Regions from separate parts of the Homo sapiens genome. Here region 2 is linked to region 1. The links come from fine-mapping of genetic effects on gene expression. A gene starts in region 1. The other region holds a variant in brackets. All regions are shown on one strand. Distances are between the middles of the regions.

The links. PIP is the estimated chance that this variant, and not a neighbour inherited with it, causes the effect. A credible set is the group of variants that fine-mapping cannot tell apart.
Region 2: its variant is the best candidate, but not a certain one, in a credible set for the expression of MFSD2B in whole blood (INTERVAL, PIP 0.76).

Annotation. Positions count from the first base shown.
Region 1 is chr2:24,006,667-24,012,044 of GRCh38, reverse strand. It overlaps MFSD2B (MFSD2 lysolipid transporter B, sphingolipid), which reads right to left and starts at 1,960. Exons shown (of 14, transcript NM_001346880.2): 1 at 1,853-1,960. The coding sequence starts at 1,948.
Region 2 is chr2:23,878,011-23,883,388 of GRCh38, reverse strand. It overlaps ATAD2B (ATPase family AAA domain containing 2B), which reads left to right. Exons shown (of 28, transcript NM_017552.4): 7 at 2,634-2,750. Among named protein-coding and RNA genes, the nearest start is that of ATAD2B, 46 kb to the left of the region's middle. The variant TG/G (reference allele first, on the strand shown) is at 2,826.

The sequences.
Region 1 (5,378 bases):
GCCCCCTACCCACCTCACCTCAAATAGCTCTCCTTCAGCCACGCCGGGCTCCTTCCTATTCCTCAAAATCATCAAGTCTGTTGCTGCCTCAGGGCCTTTGCCCTTCCCATTCCTCTGCCTGGAAGGTGACTCCTTGTCATTCTGGTTTGATGTCACCAGCTTAAATGTCACCTCCTCCAAGAGGCATTCCCTAACCTCTCACCTCTCTCAGTTGTACTTACCGCCTGCTATATTTTCATTTAGTTCCTGCCTCTCCCTACAGGAATGTAAGCTCTCTGAGAGCATGAACTCCACCTTTTATTTATCATGGTGTTTCCAGTACCTAGAACAAAGCTTGGTATACAGTAGGTGCTTAGTATATATCCGTTGAAGCAATAAATGGCCATGAAGACCCTGTGTAAAGTGCTGTTTCTTTGGAAGAAGCTGGGCTCTTTTCTCATCGTTTGCTGGGGGCTGGAGGGAGTGGAGATGACATGGCTTCACCCATTTCCACATCTTGCAGGACACCCCAGCAGGCTCTTGTGAAGGGAAGGTCTCCCCAGATAAGGGTTTATCACACTTTGCACACTCTTCCTACCCACAGGGGAAAACCACACTGGGGGCAGGATGATTCTTTTCTGACATTTGTGTGAACATCATTTCAGCTTCCAGAAAACTTTAAGAACAGGCAGAATTCAACGTGACAGTCCCCCTCTCCCCCTAATGGGGACTCTTGTATCCCCCAAAACAGGCCTAGCAAGTTTTTAGAACTTTAGAAAGAACTTCCAAGTGAAGCCAGGGATATGATCCCATCTTGCCGTCTTGAGGATGACAGTTTTACCGAAAGTCATAAAAGCCCGGTACAGCTGTACAGTGAGCTGTACAAGGAGAAGCCCCTTGGGAGGGGCGGCTCCGGGCGAGGGGCGCAGCCCTGCTATCTCTAGCTGCGTGACCCAGGGCAGGGCACCTCGGTCTCCTTGGAGTGACCGGGGCTGCCACCCCTCGGAGAGTCGTAAGAGGATTCCACGCCGGAACTTCATCAGCAATGCGAGTGTTTCCCTCTTGCTGTTAATCTCACCCTGAATTTCTAAGTTTCCCTGGGAAGTGAGAGTCCCCGGAGAGCCCCTTCATCTCACCTCACTTTCTTGTGGGATGCAATCCTGTGCTCCCAGGTGCCTCGTAGGAAGCCCTGAACAGGCTGGGGGCTGAGGTGGTCAGGGGAGGCCACAGAATGCCCTGGGCACGAGCAGGGAGCAGGCGCGTTCAGTGAGGCCCAGGAAGCCCCAGGCCCCTTGCTCCGTCCAGCACAGCCCCACTGGCCAGCACGGCCCGGCGGCATCGGGCAAGGGACAAGGGGCCCCGAAGACCCCGCCGCTCCCACCTGCCCTCCTCCCTTCTTGTCGGAGCCCATGGCCAGGACCTTCCCTGAGGCTGCCTCCAAGGGGAGCCTGGTGCCTGGGCGAGGCCAGGGTCTGGGAGGGAGGCCGAGGCCACAGCAGCTGCCTGAGGTCGGGAAGGACGCAGCCTCCCCAGGCGCTTCAGAAAGCCCTGCCTGCCCAGAGCTCGGGGACCCCGGGAGGACCTGCGGTGGCACGGACAAGACCCCTAAGCCGGGAATCAGGACAGCAATGACCACGCATCCCCAAGTTACTTCCTTGGCTAGGGCTAGGCTTCCCGTCCTAGTCTCTTTCCGGCGCCGGCACCTACCAGCCTCCCCGCTCCCAGCCGTGTAACCCCGCGAGGGCAGCCCCTGAGCTGGCAGGTTTGGGCCGAGCCCCTCCGGGCTGCCCCCAGCTGGAAAAGGGGCTGCGAGGCGACGCCCTGGAGCTCCCCGAGGACGCAGCCCCTTCCCGGTCCCCGCCGCCCCGCTCACCTCTCGCCCTCGCTTGGCGCTCCCCGGGCCGGGCTCTGGGGCGTGCGGCTCCGGCTGCGGGGACCCCTTGGCGGCTGGTGCAGGGGGCGCCGCCATTGCCACCGCAGCGCCGCCCGCGGCCGTTGCCCTCGGGGTTATCGCCCTTGGGAGGGGCGGTTCTGGGCTAGGGGCGCGGCGCGAGTGGCTGCTGGCAACGCGGGGGAAACGCAGAAACCGCGAAGGGCACCCCAAAGGGAAACAGCGAAGAACCAAAATCCGCGGGGGGAAAGGCCCGGCAGGCCCTCAGGACCGTTCTCCTTGGGGTGGATCCCCGGGGGCGTGAGCGCCCGCAGACGGCGGCCCTGCGCGCTAAGGGCTCCGCCAGACCGCTGGGGTGACCGCGGGCAAGCAGCAGCTCCCCTGCAAAATGAAGCAAGAGGCCCGCTCGTTCAGGCTGGACCATGGCTGAACAGGCATTCCGCCGGCTACACATGATGCCCAACGCCTGAAATATACATTGTCGAGTCTCCTATACAGACCACGGGGATGGCCAGTAACTAAGTTCTGGCCAGCGAATAAAAGCAGGTGGCACAGGCCAACATTCCAGAAAAGTCCTTAAAAGGGAAGGGGGGTGACAGCAGGTAGCTAGTCAGCCTCGAAAAGGGCAGGAGAGGGCCACGCTTCCAACCAGGTACGTCAGGCAACCATCAGGCGACAGTCAGGCGGTTGTTATGCTCCCTCTAAAATGATCATTGATCCAGCGGGGCCAGGGAAAGGCAGTCTCCCAATAGATAGAGAAAACCTGAAACTGGTGATCAGCTTCTCGGTAAGATCTCAGGAGCTGGGCAAGTGGGCTTACACAAATTGCGGAGTTTAACTGACATGTGACCCTCGAAGGACACCGGACTGGTAAGGGAAGAACGCCTCCAGTGAGCATGGGTACAACTCCAGTATACACAGTGTGCACACTCCCCTCCCAAGTGCTGGCAGACCACTGCCCATGCAGGCAGGCCTCCCAAGGGAAGAATCAGGGGAGAAGGGATGCAAGACCCCAGAAGTATGCCAATGCATAAGACCCCAGGTCAAAAGGTCAAACTGTGCGCTTCTTTTTCAGGTCACCCGCTTGGCCCTCTTCCAAGTGTACTTTCCTTCCTTCCATTTCTGCTGTAGAGCTTTTTAATAAACTTTTATTCCTGCTCTAAAACTTGCCTCAGTCTCTCCTTCTGCCTTATGCCCCTCAGTGGAATTCTTTCTTCTGAGGAGGCAGGAACTGAGGTTGCTGCAGACCCATATAGATTCACTCCTGCTGACATATTTTGGTGCCACGTGACTCAGATACCTTCCACCAGTAACAGGGGTACACATTAACTAAAAATGCATCATAGACCTAGAATGTAAAACTTATGAAAAAACAGGAGCAAGGGACAGGCACGGTGGCTCATGCCTGTAATCCCAGCTACTCGGCAGGCTGAGGCAGGAGAATCGCTTGAACCCGGGAGGCGGAGATTGCAGTGAGCCAAGATCGTGCCACTGCATTCCAGCCTGGGTGACAGAGGGAGACTCTGTCTCAAAAACAAAAACAAAAACAAAACCAACCAAACACAAAAAACCCAGAAGCAACTCTTCATCATATTGGGCCAGGCAATTGTTTCTTAGGACGCCAAAAGCACAAGCTGGATGAACTACAAAAGTTTTCAAAATGAAAACCTTTGTGCTGTAAACGATTCCAACAAGTGGGTATAAAGACAACCCACAGAATGGGAGAAAAGGGATTTGTATTGGAATCAACTTTCACAACTCAACAATTAAAAGACAATCCAATTCTAAAATGGGCAAAGAATTTGGATATTTCTCTAAAGATATACAAATGAACAGTAAGCACATGGAAATACAAATCGAAACTACAGTGAGACACCATTTCATATCCACAGGGTGGCTGTAATTAAAATGAGACAAGTATTGGGGAGGATGTGGAGAAATCAGAACCCCTATACACTGCTAGTGGGAATGGAAACTAGTGACAGTCCTTTGGAAAAGTTTGGCAGTTTCTCAAAGTAAAACGTGGAATTACCACATGACCCGCAATTCCACTCTTAGGTGTATACACCCTACAGAAATGAAAACATGTTCACATAAAATCTTGAACATGAATGTTCATTAGCAGCATTCATATATATATACATATATATATAATGTGTGTGTGTATATATATATGCCAAAGAGGACACAAGCCAATGTCCATCAGGTTATGAATGAATAAATATAATGTGGTATATCCATACAATGGACTACTGTTGGGCAAGAAAAAGGAATGAAGGACCAATGCATGCTACAACACAGATGAACCTTGATGACAGTATGCTAAGTAAAAGAAGCCAGTCACAAGACTACAAATTGTATTATTCCATTTATGTCAAATGTCTAGAATAGGCAAATAGAGAGTGACAGAATGTACATTTGTAGTTGCTTGGGACTGGGCTAGGGAGTTACTGCTAAGGCATGTGAGGTTTTAGAATGGACAAACATTTTCTAAAGTTAAATTGTGATGGTTGCACAACCCTATAAATACACTAAAAACCATTGAATTGTATACTTTATTTTTATTTATTTATTTTTTTGAGACAGAGTCTTGTTGCCCAGGCTGGAATGCCGGGGCACGATCTCGGCTCACTGCAACCCCCACCTCCCGGGTTCAAGTGATTCTCCTGTTTCAGCCTCCCGAGTAGCTGGGATTACAGGCATGTGCCACCACTCCCGGCTAATTTTTGTATTTGTAGTAGAGATGTGCTTTCACCATGTTGGCCAGGCTGGTCTTGAACTCCTGATCCTCAGGTGATCCACCTCGGCCTCCCAAAGTGCTGGGATTACAGTGAGCCATCGGCCTAGCCTGAATTGTATACTTTAAATGGGTGAATTGCACAGCATGTGAATTACATCTCAATAAAGCTGTTTAAAAGGAAAGATATCTGCTTCTTCCTATTGGCTGAAATACAAATGTGTCGGCTGGTGCTAGTGCAGCTACCCTGAGACCCCAAGTCTACAGAGTGATGAGATTGGCAGATCAACAGTACAGGAATCTGATGATTTTATGAGGTTGATCTACCAGCCCTGAACTGCTTCCCTCTGGACTTTTGCATGGGAAATAAAATTTGACCTTGTAAGCAACTATTATTCTGGATTTTCTGTCACAGCTAAATCTAATCCTAAAGGATACACTACCCAGTTTAGAGCAAGTCATTCCATTTTATATGTCTTAATTCCTTAATCTACAAAATGGGTACATTTTGTTTCCCTGATTGCAAATACAAGGATAGATTAGATAATGCATGTGCTAAATATTTAATTCCTTGGAAATTAAATATAAACTAAAGCCAAAGTTTCTTTAGATAATCTACTTTTACAATTTGTGGGTTTTTTTTTTTTTTCCTTTCTGTGGAGAATAGGATCTTGCTATGTTTCTCCGACTGGTCTCGAACTCTTGGGCTCAAGCTTTATTCCTGCCTCTGCCTCCCTAAGTGTTGGGATTACAGGCGTGAGCCACTGTGTT
Region 2 (5,378 bases), 130 kb after region 1:
TTGTTGATTTTTCTCTACAACCTAACGATAAAAATTTTTCAAATAATGCTTTCTGATGTCATGAGTAAAATATAAAGTCCTTGGCAGGTTTTTTTTTTTTTTTTTTTTTGAGACAGTTTTTCACTCTGTCACCCAGGCTGGAGCACATTGTCACAATCACAGTTCACTGCAGCCTTGACCTCCCAGGCTCAAGCGATCCTCCCATGTCAGCCTCCTGAGTAGCTGGGACCATAAGCACATGCCATCATGCTCGGCTAAATCTTTTGTAATTTTTGTAGAGATGGGGTCTCAATATGTTTGTTGCCCAGGCTGGTCTTGATCTCGTGAGCTCAAATAGTCTTCCTGCCTCAGCCTCCCAAAGTGCTGGGTTTATAGGCGTAAGCCACCATGTCCAGCCCTTTGCAGTTTTAGTCTTCTACTTCCCTAAGTATCACTGCCAGCTTTATATTTTTTTCTATGCTTTAATATGATTGTGTTGTATTGACAGTTCTTGTGGTTAAAAAGTTACATATTGCATTTGGGCGTTCATATGCTTACTAATTTTCATCAGATCTTTTTTTTTTTGTTGTTGTTGTTGTTGAGATGGAGTCTCGCTCTGTTGCCCAGGCTGGAGTGCAGTGGTGCAGTCTCGGCTCACTGCAAGCTCCGCCTCCTGGGTTCATGCCATTCTCCTGCCTCAGCCTCCCGAGTAGCTGGGACTACAGGCACCCGCCACCATGCCTGGCTATTTTTTTTTGTATTTTTTGTAGAGATGGGGTTTCACTGTGTTAGCCAGGATGGTCTCGATCTCCTGACCTCGTGATCCTCCCACCTTGGCCTCCCAAAGTGCTGGGATTATAGGCATGAGCCACTGCGCCTGGCCTTTTTTTTTTTTTTTTTTTTTTTTAAATAGAGGCTGGGTGTGGTGGCTCACCCCTATAATTCCAGCACTTTCGGAGGCTGAGGCGGGTGGATCACTTGAGATCAGGCGTTTGAGGCCAGGCTGGCCAACATAGTGAAACCCTGTCTCTACCAACAATACAAAAATTAGCCGGGCATTGTGGTGCACGCCTGTAATCGCAGCTACTCGGGAGGCTGAGATATGAGAATCGCCTGAACCCGAGAGGCAGAGGTTTCAGTGAGCCAAGATCATGCACTCCAGCCTGGGTGACAGTGAGATTCTGTTTCAAAAAAAATAAAAATAAAAAAAAAATAGAGATGGAATCTTGCTATGTTGCCCCAGGCTGAACTCAAACTTCTGGGCTCAAGCCATCCTCCCGCCTTAGCCTCCTAAGTATTTGGGACTAGAGGCAGGTGCCTCTGCGTCCAGCTAGACTCTTATTTTAACTGTACTTAGATGTTATAGCTATTGCCAAATCATTTTTAAAAAATAATATTTTGGCTCACGCCTGTAATCCCAGCACTTTGGGAGGCCTAGGTGGGCAGATTGCCTGAAGTCAGGAGTTCAAGACCAGCTTGGTCAATGTGGTGAAACCCCGTCTCTACTGAAAATACAAAATTAGCCAAGCATGGTGATACATGCTTGTAGTCCCAGCTACTCAGGAGGCTGAGGCAGGCGAATCGCCTGAGCCTGGGAGGCAGAGGTCGCAGTGAGCTGAGATCGCGCCATTGCACTCCAGTCTGGGCAACAAGAGCAAAACTCCATCTCAAAAAAAAAGAAAAACCTTTTAGGATTTATGTACATTATAATTTATTTTTTAAGTGTATACAGTTTAAAAAATGAATTATAGCTGGGCGCGGTGGCTCACGCCTATAATCCCAGCACATTGGGAGGCCGAGGGGGGTTGATCACCAGGTCTGGAGTTCGAGACCATCTTGGCCAATATGGTGAAACCCCATCTCTACTAAAAATACAAAAAATGAGCCGGGCGTGGTGGCACGTGCCTGTAGTCCCAGCTACTCGGGAGGCTGAGGCAGGAGAATTGCTTGAATCTAGGAGTCAGAGGTTGCAGTGAAGCCCAGATCACGCCACTGTACTCCAGCCTGGCGACAGAGACTCTGTGTCAAAAAAAAAAAAAAAAAAAAAAAGAATTGATCACTCATGTCAAGAAATAAACTATTACCAATACCCTAGAAGTCTGTTTCATGCTCCCTCTCAATGCTTATGTGCACTTTGCTACCAAAATGTAACTAATCCATGCTTAACTGTGGTCAACAGGCCTAACAAATCATTACACTGCCAACAAAAGTTGCTCTTGCTGTAACATTAGTAATTACCTATAAGCATATTTTTTTGAATTATCAAGTGGTATTTGAATACTAATCTTATTTAGTGGTTAATTGAGCATTGATTGAAGTTTGCTGTAGTTGGGTAAAATTTTAAGTCTGTTTTCTATTATTGCATTGTATGAACAAGGAGAATCAAAGTTCCTAAGTAAATCAAGAGATAAAATATGATCATATTAATTTATTTAGCAGATAATTGTATTGATCATTGGCAGGGAAAGTATTTTCTTTTACATCCATTTAGGTTGATTTTTAATTATGTATGCTTTACGTAATATGTTGGCACTTAAATGTCACCTGTGCAGAAAGAGTAATGGATAAAGTGTAAATATTCAGTTCTAGAGTAGACCAATCCTTTTGAATTAAAATAATGCCTTTTTCTTTTCTTTTTGTGTGTGGGAAACTAGAATCTCAAGAGGAGGATGGAGATATAGAAGTTGAAGAGGCAGAAGGAGAAGAAAATGATAGACCATATAATTTGAGACAGAGAAAAACAGTGGATCGATACCAAGCACCTCCAATAGGTAGGCAACTCTAAATAACTTTTTTCTTTCTGGTAGTTGAGTAACTTATTCTGCCCCACTGCTTTTTTTTTTTTT[TG/G]AGACAGAGTCTCGCTCCATCGCCCAGGCTGGAGTGCAGTGGTGCGATCCCAGTTCACTGCAAGCTGTGCCTCCTGGGTTTATGCCATTCTCCTGCTTCAGCCTCCCGAGTAGCTGGGACTACAGGTGCCCGCCACCATGAGGTCAGGAGCTCGAGACCATCCTGGCTAACATGGTGAAACCCCATCTCTACTAAAAATGCCCTACTGCTTTTAAAAAAATTAATATTGCCAAATTTAAAAGAAGGCAATCTCTTATAGGTTTTATGTACTGTATTTTTTTTTACTACATATACTTCTGTGCACACACATGCAACTGAAAGAAAGTCAAAGTACATGGTAGCAGCATTGATTTACATACAGCATGTACATTTTATTTATAGAAGCTTGTGTTTAATAATATGGCTCATGCTTTTGCATTACACTGTATAGTTTACTGAGCACTTTACTTTAATTTATAGCAGTTCTTTAGGGAAAGTATCTCTCTCTCTCTTTTTTTTTTTTTTTTTAAAAACAGAGTCTGCAGTCACCCAGACTGGAGTACAGTGGCATTATCTCAGTGCACTGCAGCCTCTGCCTCCTGGGTTCAAGCAATTCTCCTGCCTCAGCCTCCTGAGTAGCTGGGATTACAGGTGCCCGCAACCACATCTGGCTAATTTTTATATTTTTTTCAGTAGAGACAGGGTTTCACCATGCTGGCCAGGCTGGTCTCGAACTCCTGACCTCAGGTGATTGGCCCACCTTGGCCTCCCAAAGTGCTGGAATTACAGGTGTGAGCCACTGTGCACGGCCTAGGGAGAGTATCTTTATGGTCCAAGAGGTTAAGTGACTTACCCGAGGTCACAAAAATAGTATACGGCTGCAGCTTGGCCAATAACTTAGTTGTTTTCTTTTTTTCTTTTTCTTTTTTTGCTGGCAGAAGGAAAAAGTTAAAAGTTTATCTTTTAGAGAAGGGATCTCACTATGTTGTTCATGGTGCAGTGTAATGGCTGTTCAGAAGCACAAATATAATACACTACAGCCTCAAACTCCTGAGCTCAAGCTATCCTCCTACCTCAATTCCTTGTATAGCTAGAACTACAGGTGTACAACCACCATGCCTAGCTAATTAATTTTTTTTGTAGAAACAGGATCTTGCTGTGTTGCCGAGGCTGGTCTTGAACTCCTGGCCTGAAGGGATTCTCCTGCCTTGGCCTTCCAAAGCACTGTGATGTCTTGAACCTCTGCATCCAGCTGTGTATTCCTTTTTTTTTTTCTTTTGCTGAATAGCATTCTGTGGTGTGGATATATCACAATTTGTTTATCCATTCATTTGTTATGTGACATTATGATCCTTTCCAGTTTTTGGTTATTACAAATAAAGTTGTGATGAACATTCACATGTAGGTCTTTGTGTGGACATATGTTTTTGTATTTCTAACAAATACCAAGGAGTAGAAAGGCTGGGTTTTATGATGAGATATAAGAAGTTACCAAACTCTTTTTTAAAGTGGTTATACCATTTTCACTAAGAGTGTATGAGAGCTGTAGTTGCTCTGTATTCTTGCCAACAATTGGTATACTCAGATTAATTAATTAATTTTAACAGGTATTTATTATAGTTTTAGTTTACATTTCCCTAATGGTGTTGGAGCATCTTTTCATTTGTTTTTCTTTTTGACAGTGTTAAATCTTGGGTAAAATGTCTGTTCAGATCTCTGGCCATTTTTTCAATTGGGTTGTTTGTTTTCTTATTATTGAGTTTTGAGATTCCTTATATGTTCTGGATATTAGACCTTTAACAGATATGTCATTTGCAAATATTTTTAAGACAAGACAGTCTGTTGCTTGTCTTTTTTATTCTCTCAATAGTATCTTTTGAAGAGCAGAAGTTTATTATTTTATTTTATTTTATTTTATTTATTTTGAGATGGAGTCTTGCTCTGTCGCCCAGGCTGGAGTGCAGTGGCATGATCTCGGCTTACTGCAAGCTCCGCCTCCCAGGTTCATGCCATTCTCCTGCCTCAGCCTCCCGAGTAGCTGGGACTACAGGCGCCTGCCACCACGCCTGGCTAATTTTTTTGTGTTTTTAGTAGAGACAGGGTTTCTTCGTGTTAGCCAGGATGGTCTCGATCTCCTGACCTCATGATCCGCCCGCCTCAGCCTCCCAAAGTCCTGGGATTACAGGCGTGAGCCACTGCACCTGGCCTATTTATTCATTTTTTGAGACAGAGTCTCACTCTGTTGCCCAGGCTGGAATGCAGTGGTGCAGTCTTGGCTCACTGCAGCCTCCGCCTCCTGGGTTCAAGCGATTCTCCTGCCTCAGCCTCCCAAGTAGCTGGGACTACAGGCATGCGCTACCACACCTGGCTAATTTTTGTATTTTTAGTAGAGATGGGGTTTCAGCATGTTGGCCAGGCTGATCTCGAACTCTTGTCCTTAGGTGATCCACACATGTTGGCCTCCTAAAGTGCTGGGATTACAGACCTGAGCCACCATGCCTGGCCCATTTGTAATTTTAATGAACTCCAATTTATACATTTTGCTTTTTTTTTTTTTTTTTTTTTTTTTCTTT